Regions from separate parts of the Homo sapiens genome. Here region 2 is linked to region 1. Evidence: fine-mapped expression QTL. Tissue or cell type: monocytes after interferon gamma. Region 1 holds a variant in brackets; the other region holds the start of a gene. All regions are shown on one strand. Distances are between the middles of the regions.

Region 1 (8,101 bases):
AGGATGACAGGGATGTGCTGCCAGGTTGCTATAGAAACCCAGGCTCTGCCTCTTGCACCTTGAGGGGGTGGGAGGGGCTGGTGTCCTCCCTCCAGGCTGAACCCCACTTCCTCGGCAGGACCCCAGTCTCAGCAGCCTCCTGATTTCATAACCAGGCCGGACCACGTGCAATAGGGTGGAAACCAAACTGCTCCATGCCGGGTTATTTAAAAGAAAGGCAGAGTTTGTGGTGGCTTTTTTTTTTTTTTTTGGATTGTTTGTAATTTTTTTAAATAAAAGTATTTTGGAAGGAGGGATGTTGTCTAATGTTTCTAAACTTCACTGGGTCAGTGGGAGGGACCTGGTAAGTTCCTAAACATCAGCACCACTTCCGTGCCATAGCTGGGGTAGGTGTATCATTGTACATGACATTTATTGAGTGCTTGTTGGCTGAGTGCTCTAGCTCCCACTTGGAATCCTAGCACTTTGGGAGGATCTGCTTGAGGCCAGCCTGGGAAATGTGGCGAAACACTGCCTCTACAAAAAATACAAAAAGGAGCTAGGCATGGCGGCCTGTAGTCCCAGTTACTGGGGAGGCTGAGTTGGGAGGATCACCTGAGCCTGGGAGGTTGAGGCTGCAGTAAGCCATGGTCACACCACTGCACTCCAGCCTCAGAAAAAAATTAGTGCTTGTTAAGAGCACTGTTCTAGCCACTTTATTTGAATTAAGTCTGTTAATCCTCATATAGAAGTAAGTACTGTTACCACTTTTTATACAGGAGGAACCAGAAGTTTAGAGAGGACAAGTCACTTAATTCAGAGCCACACAGCTAGGAAGAACAAGGACCAGGGAGCTAGGCTGAAATGGCCTCCAGAGCCTTGTCCTTCACTATTATAAATGTTGCTTCTTAGACTAACCAGCCACGTGGGTGGGCACAGGAGGGAGAAACTGAGTCACACGGAGTATGTGTCACTGAATGTGCTGCTGAGCCCAGAGGGGCAAGAAAATGCCCAAAGACCCCCAGTACTAAAAGACCTCTTTAGGAGAGTTGGCTAGGAAGCAGAGCCCAGATTAGATTTATAGTGCTAATGCTTTTTTTTTTTTTTTTTTTTTGAGACGGAGTCTCACTCTGTCACCCAGGCTGGAGTGCAATGACAGGATTTTGGCTCACTGCAACCTCCACTCCCGGGTTCAGGCAATTCTCCTGCCTCAGCCTCCCGAATAGCAGTGACTACAGGTGCTTGCCACCACGCCCAGCTAATTTTTGTATTTTTTTTAAAATAGAGACAGTTTCACCATGTTGGCCAGGCTTGTCTCCAACTCCTAACCTCAAGTGACCCGCCTGCCTCAGCCTCCCAAAGTGCTGGGATTACAGGCATGAGCCACTGTGCCTGACCTGTGCTGATGCTTTATTTCGGAGGTACGAGCCCAGGCTGCTGAGATACAGGAGAGGAGAAGGAGGTGAAGGAAGTGAAGGAAGAGGTAATGTGATACCTGTACAGGCTATGCCTTTACAATGGTCTTTGAAGAGATGAAGCAAGTGAGCTACACAGCATTAGGGACTTTTCTGGAAGGGCTGCGAGGAGGAACAACACCTGAGTATAGTCCATGGGTGGAGAAAGGATGGGGATTTTGCTTGTGGTTTCTGGGTCAAAGCCAGATTTCTCAACCTGAAGGGGTCATTGTCAGAAAGTGGAGGGATAACCTGAAGAGGTGGGTGCCAATCCAGAGAGAGGAATGAGGTGGCCCAGAGGATCTAAAGAAAGCAACCAGGTACAGGCCAGGCGCGGTGGCTCAGGCCTGTAATTCCAGTACTTAGGGAGGCCAAGGCGGGAGGATTGCCTGAAGTGAGGAGTTTGAGACCAGCCTGGCCAACATGGCGAAGCCCTGTCTCTACTAAAAATACAAAAAATTAGCTGGGCATGGTGGCAAACACCTGTGGTCCCAGCTACTCAGGAGGCTGAGGCAGGAGAATCACTTGAATCCAGGAGGCACAGGTTGCAGTGAGCTGAGATCATACCACTGCACTCCAGCCTGAGTGACAGAGCGAGATTCCATCTCAAAAAAAAAAAAAAAAAAGCAACCAGGTGTGATACTTGCTGTGGAATTGTAAAAAATAAAAATAAAAGGTAAGCAACCAGGTCTGCATCCCAATATGATGGCAATTGAATCATGTCTTCCTCCTTGAAACCTTCAGTGCCTTTTTTTTTTTTTTTTTCTTTTGAGACAGGGTCTCTGGCTCTGTCGCCCAGGCTGGAGTGCAGTGGTACAATCACAGCTTACTGCAACCTCCACCTCATGGACTCAAGCAATTCTCCCACCTCAGCCTCAGCCTCCCAAGTAGCTGGGACTACAGGCACGTGGACCACACCTGACTAATTTTTGTATTTTTTGTAGAGATGGGGTTGTGCCATGTAGCCCAGGCTGGTCTTGAACTCCTGGAATCAAGCGATCCTCACATCTCAGCCTCCCAAAGTGCTGGGATTACAGGCATGAGCCACCACGCCCAGCCTCCAGTGACTTCTTGACACACTCAATAAAGCGCCAGCTCCACCAAGACCTGCAAGGACTGACTTATTCTCACTTCGGACAACTTTCTCAGTTCCATCTCCCACTCTCTCCATCACTCAACTGGGCTCCCTTGACCCCAGCTCCTTCTCACCCCAGGGCCTTTGCCCTAACTGTTAAATTTTCCCAGTGGACATTTTCCCCAATAGCTTCACCAATCCCAATATCCCCTTCTCAGGGAGGTCTTCCTTGCCCTTCCTAGCTCAACACATCCAGGTGGGTCACCACCCCACCACAACTTGTTTGATTTTCTTTCTTTCTTTTTTTTTGAGATGGAGTCTTGCTCTGTCTCCTAGAATGGAGTGTAGTGGCATGATCTTGGCTCACTGCAGCCTCTACCTCCCAGTTCCAGCAATTCTTCTACCTTAGCCTTCCGAGTAGCTGGGATTACAGGCACATGCCACCACACCTGGCTAATTTTTTTTTTTTTTTTTTGACACGGAGTTTTACTCTTGTTGCCCAGGCTGGAGTGCAATGACGCGATCTTGGCTCACCACAACCTCCGCCTCCTGGGTTCAAGTGATTCTCCTGCCTCAGCCTCTCGAACAGCTGGGATTACAGGCATGCGCCACCACACCCAGCTGATTTTGTATTTTCAGTAGAGACAACGTTTCTCCATATTGGTCAGGCTGGTCTTGAACTCCTGACCTCAGGTGATCCGCCCGCCTCGGCCTCCCAAAGTGCTGGGATTACAGGCATGAGCCACTGCACCTGGACTGATTTTGTTTTAGTAGCATCTACCCAATCTCGAGTTACTTATTTCCCATCTATAGGTAGCCTCCTACTCTCCTGGGAACTCTGAGGGTTGTGTTGGTCTGTGCCTAGAACTATGCTTGGCACAACTGCACTCTCCAAAATTATTTGTTGTTGAAGGGTCAGGCACGGTAGCTCACGCCTATAATCCCAGCACTTTGGGAGGCCAAGGCGGTCGGATCACCTGAGGCTAGGAGTTCGAAACCAGCCTGACCACCATGGAAAAACCCTGTCTCTACTAAAAATACAAAATTAGCCAGGCGTAGTGGCACATGGCTATAATCCCAGCTACTCAGGAGGCTGAGGCAGGAGAATCACTTGAACCCAGGAGGCGGAGGTTGTGGTGAGCTGAGATCGTGCCATTGCACTCCAGCCTGGGCAACAAGAGCGAAACTCCATCTCAAAAAAAAAAAAAATTATTTGTTGTTGAAAAACTTGGCCAGGTGCAGTGGTTCACGCCTGTAATCCCAGCATTTTGGGAGGCTGAGGCAGGAAGATCGCTTGTGTCCAGTTCAAGACCAGCCTGGGCAACACAGGGAGACCCCATCTCTACAAAAAACTAAAATAAAATTAGCTGGGCTGATGGCATGCCCTTGTAGTCCCACCTACTCAGGAGGCTGAGGTGGGAGGATCGCTCGAGCTCAGGAAATGGAGGCTGTGAGCAGAGATAACACCACTGCACTCCAGCACTCCATCTGGAACAGAGCAACAGAGGGAGGTCCTGTCTCAAAAAAAAAAAAAAAAAAAAAAAA[AG/G]GCCGGGTGCGGTGGCTCACACCTGTAATTCCAGCACTTTGGGAGGCCGAGGCGGGCAGATCACGAGGTCAGGAGATTGAGACCATCCTGGCTAACACGGTGAAACCCCGTCTCTACTAAAAATACAAAAAAATTAGCCGGGCGAGGTGGCGGGCACCTGTAGTCCCAGCTACTCGGGAGGCTGAGGCAGGAGAATGGCGTGAACCTGGGAGGCGGAGCTTGCAGTGAGCCGAGATTGCACCACTGCACTCCAGCCTGGGTGACAGAGCAAGACTCCGTCTCAAAAAAAAAAAAAAAAAAATGAACTCCAGACCTAGCAATGACTAACTTTCCCTCCCACCTTTCTGAACTCATCTCCCCTACACACCCTCACTCTTATACTCCCACCACACCATTCCCTGCTGTTCCTCATATACACCATATTCCAAACTGAAGGATCTGGAGTAATACCTGCCTCACACTGCAAAGTGTCAGGGAGCCTGAGGCAGGCCAAGGATTCCAATAATGGCTCAGATTTATTGAGTGCCTGCTGTGGACCTGGCACTCTTCAGCAGGAAAATAAATAAAATAGACAATTCCTGCTCTCATGAAATTTAACAGTGGGGGAAGAGTGAAATACACATGAAAAATAATGCCAGGCATGGCAGCACGTGACTATGAGCCCAGTAACTCAGGAGGCTGAGGCAGGAGGATTATTGGAGGCCAAGAATTCAAGACCACTTTGGGCAACATAGCAAGACCACATCTCTAAAACAATTTTAAAAAAAAATTAGCTGGGCACGCTAGTCCCAGCTATTCAGAAGACTCGGGTGGGAGGATCCCTTCTTCAGCCCAGGAGTTGGAGGTTACAGTGAGCTGTGATCACAGCACTGCACTCCAGCCTAAGCGACAGAGTGAGACTCCCACTCCAAATAGATAGATAGATAGATAGATAGATAGATAGATAGATAGATAGTTAGTTAGATAGGGCCGGGCGCTGTGGCTCACACCTGCAATCCCAGCACTTTGGGAGGCCAAGGCGAGTGGACCACCTGAGGTCAGGAGTTCAAGAGCAGACTGGCCAACACAGTGAAACCCCCTCTCTACCAAAAATACAAAAAAATTAGCTGGGCATGGTGGCCGGCGCCTGTAATCCCAGCTACTCCAGAGGCTGAGGCAGGAGAATCGCTTGAACCTGAGAGGTGAAGGTTGCAGTGAACTGAGATCAGGCCACTGCACTCCAGCCTGGGCAACCAGAGTAAAATTATGTCTCAAAAATAATTAAGTAAATAAAAAGAAAAATAAGGCCGGGTGTGGGGGCTCACGCCTGTAATCCCAACACTTTGGGAGGCCAAGGTGGGTGGATAATTTGAGGTCAGGAGTTCGAGACCAGCCTGGCCAACATGGTAAAACCCCATCTCTACTAAAAATACAAAAATTAGCTGGGTATTGTGATGCACACTTGTAGTCCCAGCTACTCAGGAGGCTGAGGCAGGAGAATCACTTGAACCCGGGAGGCGGAGGTTGCAGTGAGCCGAGATCACACCACTGCACTCCAGCCTGGGTGACAGAGCAAGACTCTGTCTCAAAAAAAAAAAAAAAAAAAGAAGTGAAAATGTGTAAGTCAGCCAGGTGGTGATAAATGCTGTGGGGGCAGGGGGGAGCAGAGGAGTGAGGAGGGTGTTGCAATTTACATAGGATGGCCAGATAGGGCGTCTGAGACAAGGTGACATTTGGGTAAAAACCTGAAGAAGGGCCAGGCACGTTGGCTCACCCCTGTAATCCCAGCACTTTGGGAGGCCAAGGCAGTCAGATTGCTTGAGCCCAGGAGCTTGAGACCAGCCTGGGGTAACATGGCAAGGCCCTGAGGTCCTGTCTCTACTCAAAAAAAAAACCAAAAAAACAAAAAAAACAAAAAAACTGGGTGTGGTGGTGCTCACCTGTAGTCCCAGCTACTAGTGAGGCTGAGGTAGAAGGATCGCTTGAGCCCATAATGGGCAGAGGTTGCAGTGAGAGGAAATCCCACTGCTGCACTCCAGCCTGGGCTACAGAGCAAGACCCTGTTTCAAAAACAAAAACAGGTAGGGCGCCCTGGCTCACTCCTACAATCCCAGCACTTTGGGAGGCTGAGGCAGGCGGATTACTTGAGGTCAGGAATTCAATACCAGCCTCGCCAACATAGTGAAACCCCATTTCTACTAAAAATACAAAAATTATCTGGGCAAGGTGGCAGCTGCCTGTAATCCCAGCTACTCCGGAGGCTGAGGCAGGATAATTGCTTGAACCGGAGAGGTGGAGATTGCAGTGAGCTGAGATGGGGCCACTGCACTCCAGCCTGGGCGACAAGAGCGAAACTCCGTCTCAAAAACAAACAGGCCAGGCGCGGTGGATCATGCCTGTAATCCCAGCACTTTGGGAGGCCGAGGCAGGCGGATCACGAGGTTAGGAGTTCGAGACCAGCCTGGCCAACATGGTGAAACCCCGTCTCTACTGAAAATTAGCCGGGTGTGGTGGCGGGCGCCTGTAATCCCAGCTACTCGGGAGGCTGAGGCAGGAGAATTGCTTGAACCCGGGAGGCGAAGGTTGCAGTGAGCCGAGATGGCGCCACTGCACTCCAGCCTGGGCGACAGAGCAAGACTTCGTCTGGAAACAAACAAACAAACTTTTTGTTTAAAAAGTGAGCCACCGTGCCCCGCCCTCCCCCTTTCCCTGCAGCTCTCTGCCTGCCCTGAAGATAACCCTGGGAAGGGGAATCGCACAGTTCCTTAGCACCGCGATGAGGCCAGTAAGAGGAGCACCCTCTTTCCAGATGAAAAAACTGAGGCTCCGAGAGGCCCAGCGCCTTCCTTAACACCGCACTTGTTAAAAAGAACTGGCCACAGAAGTGGAAAGGCTGGCCCTGCAGAAGGAACCGAGTCCCCGAGGGCAGTGTCCACGTTCCCCAACCTGCCCTCCTCCGCGGCGGGGGATGGGCCCGCGGCCCGCCCTGGGCGTGGCGGGAAGGCCCAGTCCCTCCCCGCTGCCCACCCTCCGCCCTGGGCCGGCCGGGGTACCCGGGAGGCGGCCGCGGCCGGGAGCCGGCCTGGCGCCTCCTCCCTCCCCAGAGGCCGGACGGGGCGGGCCGCGCCTCCCGACCCCCCTCCCTGCCTCCCTCCCCAGCAGGCGGAGGCTTCTCTCCAGGCCTGCCGGGCCCGGTGGCTTCGCCGATGGTTTCATTTCCCCAGGCCCGGCCTCTCCTCTTCTCCCTTCCCCCAGCCTTTGAATTCCTGGCTCCGTCTCCATTTTCTGGCCCCAGCTCCAATGTCAACGCCTCGAAGAATCTCTCTCTAGGACCACCCTGGTTACAGGCGATTATCCCGTCTTATTTTGTTTTCTTCAAGTCACTGAACGGAAACGGAAATTATTTTTCTCATCGATTCATCTTCCAGGGTCTTCTCATCCCGCTCGGAGTAAAAAACAAAGGTCCACAGAGTAGGCTAAAAGGCCTCACTTCTCGGACCTCCTTCCCGGCAGCTCCCAGTCCAGCTGCCCTGGCCTTGTCTCCTGACAGGCAGCACTTCAGAGCCTTTGCACTGGCTCTCGCCTCTGCCTGGAATGCTCTTCCTCTAGTTTTCCTACCTCTCTCATTTGTTTTGGTTTGTTTGTTTTTTGAGACAGAGTCGTTCTCTGTCGCCCAGGCTGGAGTACAGTGGGGCGATCATAGCTCACTGCAGCTTCAAACTCCAGGTTCAAGTGATTCTCCTACCTCAGCCTTCCAAGTACCTGGAACTACAGGCACGCCCGGCTAATTTTTTTGTTTGTTTTTGTTTTTGTTTTTTGAGATGGCAGTGGCACCGTCTCGGCTCACCGCAACCTCCGTCTCCCGGGTTCAAGCAATTCTCCTGTCTCAGCCTCCCGAGTAGCTGGGACTACAGGCGCCTGCCATCACGCCGGGCTACTTTCAAAACAAAACAAAACAAAAAAACCACACAAATTATCTAGTACCTTAGGAGCAGGTAATTGCAAAGGAAAAGAAAAAAGCAGACCGGGTGCAGTGGCTCATGCCTGTGATCCCAACACTTTGAGAGG
Region 2 (8,101 bases), 29 kb before region 1:
GGTGGATTGCCTGAGCTCAGGGGTTCGAGACCAGTCTGGGCAACTTGGTGAAACTCCATCTCTACTAAAATACAAGAAATTAGCCAGGCATGGCATTGTGCACCTATAATCCCAGCTACTCAGGAGACTGAGACAGTAGAATCGCTTGAACCTGGGAGACAGAGGTTGCAGTGAGCTGAGATCGTGCCACTGCACTCCAGCCTGGGCGACAGAGTGAGACCCCATCTCAGAAAAAATAAAATTAAATTAAATGAAAATAAAAAAATAGAAAACAAAAAATTATTTAAAAAAAGAAGAAATTGGCCGGGCACAGTGGCTCACACCTGTAATCCCAGCACTTTGGGAGGCCAAGGTGGGTGAATCACCTGAGGTCAGGAGTTCCAGACCAGCCTGGCCAACATGGTGAAACCCCGCCTCTACTAAAAATATAAAAACTAGCCGGGTATGGTGGTACATGCCTGTAATCCCAGCTACTCAGGAGGCTGAGACAGGAGAATTGCTTGAACCCAGGAGGCGGAGGTCGCAGTGAGCCGAGATCGCACCACTGCACTCTAGCCTGGGTGAGAGAGTGAGACTCCATCTCAAAAAAAACAAAAAAAAAGAGAAGAAATTTAAAGGGTTAAGTGACATTAGATGTATCTCCTTTACCTTCTGGGCCCCCAGGCCTGATTCTAAGACTAACGGCTGGGCGTGGTGGCTCACACCTGTAATCCTAGCACTTTGGGAGTCTGAGGCGGGTGGATCACGAGGTCAGGAGTTCAAGACCAGCCTGGCCAACATGGTGAAACCCCATCTCTACTAAAAACACAAAAATTAGGTGGGCAAGGTTGCAGGTGCCTGTAATCCCAGCTACTCAGGAGGCTGAGGCAGGAGAATTGCTTGAAACCGGGAGGCGAAGGTTGTAGTGAGCCGAGATTGTGCCACTAAACTCTAGCCTGGGCGACAGAGTAAGACTCCTTCTCAAAAGAAAAAGGAAAAAAAAAAGACTAACAAAGGAGGAAGTTGGGAGATCAATGTCCTCAAAAGACCCAGACAATTGCCAACCCACTGAATTCTAGGAAGGCAGGGTCTAAGTCTTGGTCAGTAGAGTGAGTAGAGTGGAAATTGTCCCTTAGGGGGACACATTGAAATCTTTTTTTTTTTTCTGAGACAAGGTATTGCTCTATCACCCAGGCTAGAGTGCAGTGACACAATCATAGCTCCCTGTAGCCTCCAACTCTTGTGCTCACGCGATCCTCCCACCTCAGCCTCCTGAGTAGATGGGACTAGAGGCAAGCTCCACCATGACCAGGTAATTTTTGTATTTTTTGTAGAGAGGGGGTCTCACTATGTTGCTCAGGCTGGTCTCAAACATCTGGGCTCAAGCTATTTGCCCACTTCAACTTCCCAAAGTGCTGGGGTTACACATGTGAGCCACTGTGCCCAGTCCCAAATCCATTTTTGTTCTTCCCTCCTTCCATGGAAAAGTGAAAGTGAGCACACAGCTACCTACCACCTGTGTGACCTTGGCTGAAATACTTCCACTCTTTGGGCCTTAGTTTGTTCATCTGCAAAATAGTAATGATGGCCCGGCACGGTGGCTCATGCTTATAATCTCAGCACTTTGGGAGGTCAAGGTAGGTGGATCACTTGAGGCCAGGAATTCGAGACCGGCCTGGCCAACATGGCAAAACCCGGTCTTTACTAAAAAAAATACAAAAATTAGCCAGGCGTGGTGGCACGTGTCTGTAGTCCCAGTTACTTGGGAGGCTGAGGCAGGAGAATCGCTTGAACCTGGGGGATGGAGGTTGCAGTGAGCTGAGATTGACTCACTGCACTCCAGCCTGAATGACAGAATGAAACTCTGTCACACACACACAAAAGGGTAGGCCAGGCGGTGGCTCACGCCTATAATCCCAGCACTTTGAGAGGCCAAGGAGGTGGGTGGGTCACCTGAGGTCAAGAGTTGGAGACCAGCCTTACCAACATAGTGAAACCCCATGTCTACTAAAAATTCAAAATTAGCCAGGCATGGTAGCTCATGCCCGTAATCCCAGCTACTTGGGAGGCTGAGGCAGGAGAACTGCTTGAAGTCGGGAGGCAGAGGTTGCAGTGAGCCAAGATCGCGCCATTACACTCCAACTTGGGTGACAAGAGTGAAACTCCGTCTCAAAAAAAAAAAAAAGTAATGATAATCGTACCCGTTTCTTAGCGGTGTTTGAAGAGGTAAGTTATTAATGCAGGGATCATGGTATCTGGTACACTGCAAGCCCTTGATACATGTTCCTTGCTATTATTCTTCATCTTTTCCTCACACATCTCAGCAAATCGATTTGCCTCTTCTGGAGTCAGACAGAAATGAGTTCAAGTTCCGCTTTATTCTTGCTGTATCTTTAACCGAGTATCTTTAACTTGGCCTTTCTGTGCCTCAGTTTCCCTCCCTGTTAAACGGTGGTTACAGCTGTTTTCTTCAGTGGAAGACACTTAGAGATGGGGAGGCCCTTAGCACTCCTGTTAGCCCTCTGGCCAGGCCGAGGATCAGCTCTGGCCATAACGCGATTGAATGGGAAGGAAGGGAGCAGGTAATAGGGAAGCCGGGAAGGGGTGTCCTGCGAGCCTCCCCCCAACACCCCCCCCCCCCCGCAAAGGCTGGTGGGGCGCTGGGCTGCGGTGGCATCAGAGGCTTTAACCCTTCCCAGGCCGCGCCTCTCTCCCTGCGGTCCAGACACTGCGCCCAAGGAGGGGGCCTGGGAAGGACAAGGCCTGGGGGTAAGACCCACGCGTGGCGCGGAAGCTAGACCGGGTGGGGGGGTTGTGGGCTCGTCCTGCCCTCGACCCTTTGCCTCCCTCCAGCCGGGGAGACCCGGGGCTCCAGCCATGCCCCGTGCGCGCGGAGGAGGGATGCTCGCCAGGTGGGGACATACTTGGGGGAGGGGCTGTCGGCCCCCCTAGCAGCTCACCTGGGCCCGCGGCCGCCAGCGTCGCTGTCTCCGCTGCTCGCCGCGACCGACCGCCCTCCCTGTCGGCGTCCGCTGCCCGGCCCGGCCCGGCCCGGCCCAGCCCGGCTCAGCTCGGCCCCGCCGGCCCGCGGCTCAGCCAGATCCGCATGCGCCGCCGCGCCTCCCTCTCTCGCGCCGCCGCCGCGCTCAGCGCGCCCCCGGGACCCCCTCCCGCCCGCGGTCCCCGCGCCCCGCCGCCCGAGGCCCACGCGCAGTCACACCCGGCCGCGGCGTGGGGTGCACGGCTGCACTCGCGAGGGCACGGCGGCGTCACGCGCTGCACACTCCCACGGGGTCACGCTCGCCACGCTGCCATACTCGCGGGGGCCTCGGCGCACAAACTCACCCCCGCATCCACGCGCTTGCGCGCCGTCACTCCCTCCTGTGGGGTCTCACGGGGTCACACCCTCACGCCGTCACACGCGGCGTCCACACTGGAACGGTGTCACCCACCACCACACAAATCCAATAGGGTAACCACCGCCCACGCGGCGTCACACACAAATGCACCTGTCACACACAGCCGCACACTCCCCGGCAGTCACAAACAGTGTCATAGGCCCACACATCACGCACAGCTTCACAGCCACAGTGTCACACACTCTACACACTCGAACCTTCATAGCAGTCGCCCCGCACATGCTGCACCGCCGCACCTCACACATCATAGTCACAGGGGGTCACAATGAGCAGCTCAACACAGACACCCACAGCCACACACTCGAATGGGGTCCCGGTGTCACACATCCTTACACGAGACATGTGGTGTCACACACTGTCACAGTCTAATTAGTCTCACGCTTCCATGTAGCACACCTCACACGTCCCACACCCTATCGTACAGGCTGACGCAGTGTCACCCACGGTGTCACCACAAGGTCACAAAAGAACAGAATCAATGCCTGCCACACGTGGTGTCACGCACGTGTAGTCACACTGTAACACGGGATCACACTCAGAGGATGACACAAGGTGTCACCCACAGTCCTGCTTGCCCTCCGGGTCACTGAGTCACACAGGGTCATATAAGTGCATAGGTACGCCGTGACACAGTGTCTTACATCCAAGTGCACACACACACTCTGTCCTCCTAACTTTCTCCCCTTGCTGGTTCTGGGAGGCCCTGGGGCTTAGAGTGCGCCCCAGATCCGCTCCAGGCTCCGGGAGAGGGGGCGTGAGCTACGAGAGGCCGTGGGTGAGGCTCGCCTGGCCCCGCCCCTCTCCGGGAGGTGGAGCGCGGAGGCAGGGCGCTGAGTGACAAGTTATCTCGGCTCCGTCCACTCTATTTGTTGCTATGTGGAGGCGTGGCCTTCTGTGGCCCCGCCTTCCAGTCTAAGTGGCGCGCAGAGAGGGCGGTGCTGGACGGTGAGCGAATGCAAGCTGACGCCTGCCCCGCCCATCCGCGTTAGGCCCCGCCCCTTGACCTGAGCCGCGGGCGGAGAGTCTGAGGCGTGGCCCTTCGAGCCAGCTCCGCCCCGTTGTTCCTGGCTTGAGTAGGGCAGAGAGCACCGCCCAGCAGCCAGTGGGTTCCCGCGCGTGCCGAGACTCTGAGGCCTTGCACCCCCACGATCCCGTACGATGGCCGTCAAGAAGATCGCGATCTTCGGCGCCACTGGCCAGACCGGGCTCACCACCCTGGCGCAGGCGGTGCAAGCAGGCATGAGCCGGGGCGGGCGGGGCATGTCACGGGACAGACGGGCAGAACTTTAGGAAGGGGCACCATGGGGTCGGGCCGAGGCTGATTGGGGCCATGAGCGCCCCAGCCAGGTGTATGAGGACTCAGGGGCCAAAGCAAGTGGCCACGGGGGCAGAAATGGGGAAAGATGTGAGATCCAAGTTTATGTGAGTCCAAGCCAGAGAGGAATTGGCCCCGGGAGCCCCGGGAGGACTCCACTGGCACAGTCGTGTGTAAGTCCAGGGCTCTTATGCAATGCGGTTGTCATTATTGTGGTTGTGGTGGTGGTTGTTCGCACTCCCAGAGAGGATTTACTAAGCCAAGCTTGCTCTGTCGTCTCTTCACATGAGAGCTTTCAAAATGGGGTGGGAACTAGTATCACCCTACTTGACAGATGAGAAAACTGAGACCCAGAGAGTGACTTGCCCAATATCACACAGCTGTTAACTGACAGGACTGGGATTTGAACTCAGCTCATGCTCTTAACCACCACAAGTCCCCAGGCTGGAAACTGAAAAAGTTGGGGGGTCAGGTTGCTGCGAGTACCTAATGGGAAGGAGTCACAGAGAGACATGAGTGAAGACTTGGGGACAGCAGTCCTGGGAAAGTCAATGAGGGCTGAAAATTTGGAGTTGCCCCAGGAGAGAGGGCAGAAAAGGGGATAACCATCCCCCAGCACTCCCTGCCCCCACAGCCCAGACTTGACCAACTCCCAGCTGGGCCTGGGACTTCCAGATATGGGGCCCCACCCTTGCAGGCCTTGGGGACGCTGAAGATATTGACTATCTGCGTGCCCCAAAAGGGTGGAGGCCAACAGGACCCCACTCTGCTGTCTCCCTTGGAGGGACTCTGAAAGTTCTTCTCTAGGTCCATAACTCTCCCCTTCCCCAGGGAGACCACGTGAGGATCTTGACTTGTGGAGAATGGGGAGCTGTGGGCCTCTCAGTAAAAACCAGTTTGCTGATAAGCATTTATTCGGGAGTAATGGAGAAGGAAGTAAGAGAGAGAAGTTGAGAGGCGCTGAGTCACCTGGAAATCCACTAATTCCACCGAATTCCACTCGCCCACCCTGCTGGTCATAGCTGGGACTGCACTCAGAGGGTTAAGAACTGGAGCCTAGGGAGCTTCAGAGCTGTGGCTCTGAAAAATCTCTTCCCAGCTCTCAGCTTTGCTGTCCCCCTCAGCAAAGGGAAGGGCTGGCCAGGCACGGTGGATCATGCCTATAATCCCAGCACTTTGGGAGGCCAAGGCGGGAGGATGGCTTGAGGCCAGGAGTTTGAGACTAGCCTGGGCAACGTAGCAAGACCCCATCTCTACAAAAATACAAAAAAAAAATAAATTAGCTGGGCGTGGTGATGCATGCCTGTAGTCCCAGCTACTCAGAAGGCTCAGGTGGGAGGATTGCTTGAGCTCAGGAGTTCAAGGCTACAGTGAGCTGTGTTTGCACCACTGCACTCCAGCCTGGGTGACAGGGTGAGACCCTGTCTCTCAAATTTAAAAAAATACATAAAAAGAAAGAAAAAGAGGCTGGGTGCGGTGGCTCACGCCTGTAATCTCAGCACTTTGGGAGGCTGAGGCAGGTGGATCACGAGGTCAGGAGTTCGAGACCAGCCTGGCCAATATAGTGAAACCCCGTCTCTACTAAAAATACGAAAAATTAGCCGGGCATGGTGGCTGGTGCCTGTAATCGCAGTTACTTGGCAGACTGAGGCAGGAGAATAGCTTGAATCCGGGAGGCAGAGGTTGTGGTGAGCCGAGATTACGCCACTGCATTCCAGCCTGGGCGACAAGAGTGAAACTCTGTCTCAAAAAAAAAAAAATTAGCTGGGCACAGTGGTACGTGCCTGTAATTCCAGGTACTTGGGAGGCTGAGGCACAAGAATCGCTTGAACCTGGGAGGTTGCAGTGAGCTAAGATTGCATCACTGCACCACTGCACTCCAGCCTGGGTGACACAGCAAGATGAAAGGAAAGAAGGAAGGAAGAAAAGGAGGGAGGGATGGAGGGAGGGAGGGAGGGAAGGAAAGAAGGGAGGGAAGGAGGGAGGGAGGGAGGGAGGGAGGGAGAAGGGGCTTGGATTAACTGGAGTTCACAATGGTTCTGTAGGGCCAAGAGTCTTAACAGGCATGAACTCTGGTGCCAGCCTGCCCACATTCAAGTCACCAGCTCTGCGGCTTACAGCCTTTGTGACCAAATGCCTTGTCATCTGTGTACCTAGATATGTGTAAGATCATGACAAAACTGGTAGTACTTGCCCTAGGGCTCTTGGGATAATTAAATGAGATCTTATATAGGAGGTACTTAGACTAGCATTGAATTTTGCAGTCTCTGGATCAGACTTACTTAGGTAAAAATTCAACCTTCTCTACCTACTAGCTGTGTGATCCTGGCCCGGTTGCCTAAAATTGCCTCAGTTTCCCCATCAATGTGGACAGGATAATGATACCTACCTTGCAGGGTTGTTGCAACCTGATGCTTCTCAAACTGTGAGTTACAATGAGATCTGAAACATATGGTCACAACGTGTATCAACAATATAGGGTAACAAATGATGACATAGTATCAAAATGTATCACATGTTAAGTATTAGTTTTGTGAAACTCATTTTAATTATATATGTATGCGTTTGTGTACACCAGGTTAGGCAATGAAATTTTTTGTATTGATGGCTGATTTTTTTTTTTTTTTTTTTTTTTTTTTGAGACAAGAGTCTCACTCTGCCGCCCAGGCTGGAGTGCAGTGGCACAATCTTAGCTCACTGCAAGCTCCGCCTCCCGAGTTCAGCCATTCTCCTGCTTCAGCCTCCCAAGTAGCTGGGACTACAGGCGCCTGCCACCATGCCCAGCTAATTTTTTTTGTATTTTTAGTAAAGATGGGGTTTCACCATGTTAACCAGGATGGTCTCCATCTCCTGACCTCATGATCCGCCCGCCTCAGCCTCCCAAAGTGCTGGGATTACAGGCGTGAGCCACCACGCCCGGCCAATGGCTGAGATTTTCAAAAAGCTTAAAAAGAGGCCAGGCACCATGGCTCACGCCTGTAATCCCAGCACTTTGGGAGGCCAAGGTGGGCGGATCACAAGGTCAGGAGATCGAGACCACCCTGGCTAACACCGTGAAACCCCATCTCTACTAAAAATACAAAAAATTCGCCGGGTGTTGTGGTGCACACCTATAATCCCAGCTACTCTGGAGGCTGAGGTGGGAGAATCGCTTGAACCTGGGAGGCGGAGGTTGCAGTGAGCTGAGATTGCGCCACTGCACTCCAGCCTGGGCAAGAGAGTGAGACTTCATCTCAAAAAAAAAAAAAAAAAGAATGCCCATATTGGCCCATGCAAGCCCCTGCTGCTCCCCCATGTGTGAGGGCAGCACAGATCTTGTGTCATTCCCCTATGAAAGGTGGTCACATAGCACGGGGAGGCTGGTGCTGTGATCCTCACTTCAGAGATG

What was found. PIP is the estimated chance that this variant, and not a neighbour inherited with it, causes the effect.
Region 2: BLVRB starts here. The variant in region 1 is fine-mapped to the expression of BLVRB in monocytes after interferon gamma (Fairfax 2014, PIP 0.95).

What each region holds. Positions count from the first base shown.
Region 1 is chr19:40,433,036-40,441,136 of GRCh38, reverse strand. SERTAD3 (SERTA domain containing 3) reads left to right here. Exons shown (of 2, transcript NM_203344.3): 2 at 1-293. Among named protein-coding and RNA genes, the nearest start is that of SERTAD3, 7.2 kb to the left of the region's middle. RefSeq lists a cis regulatory region at 5,571-5,835, a silencer at 6,914-7,203 and enhancers at 7,314-7,393, 7,069-7,897. The variant AG/G (reference allele first, on the strand shown) is at 4,054.
Region 2 is chr19:40,462,144-40,470,244 of GRCh38, reverse strand. BLVRB (biliverdin reductase B) reads left to right here and starts at 4,500. Exons shown (of 5, transcript NM_000713.3): 1 at 4,500-4,635. The coding sequence starts at 4,557. SPTBN4 (spectrin beta, non-erythrocytic 4) reads right to left here and starts at 3,244. Exons shown (of 36, transcript NM_020971.3): 1 at 2,940-3,244. RefSeq lists a silencer at 4,086-4,285 and an enhancer at 5,307-5,426.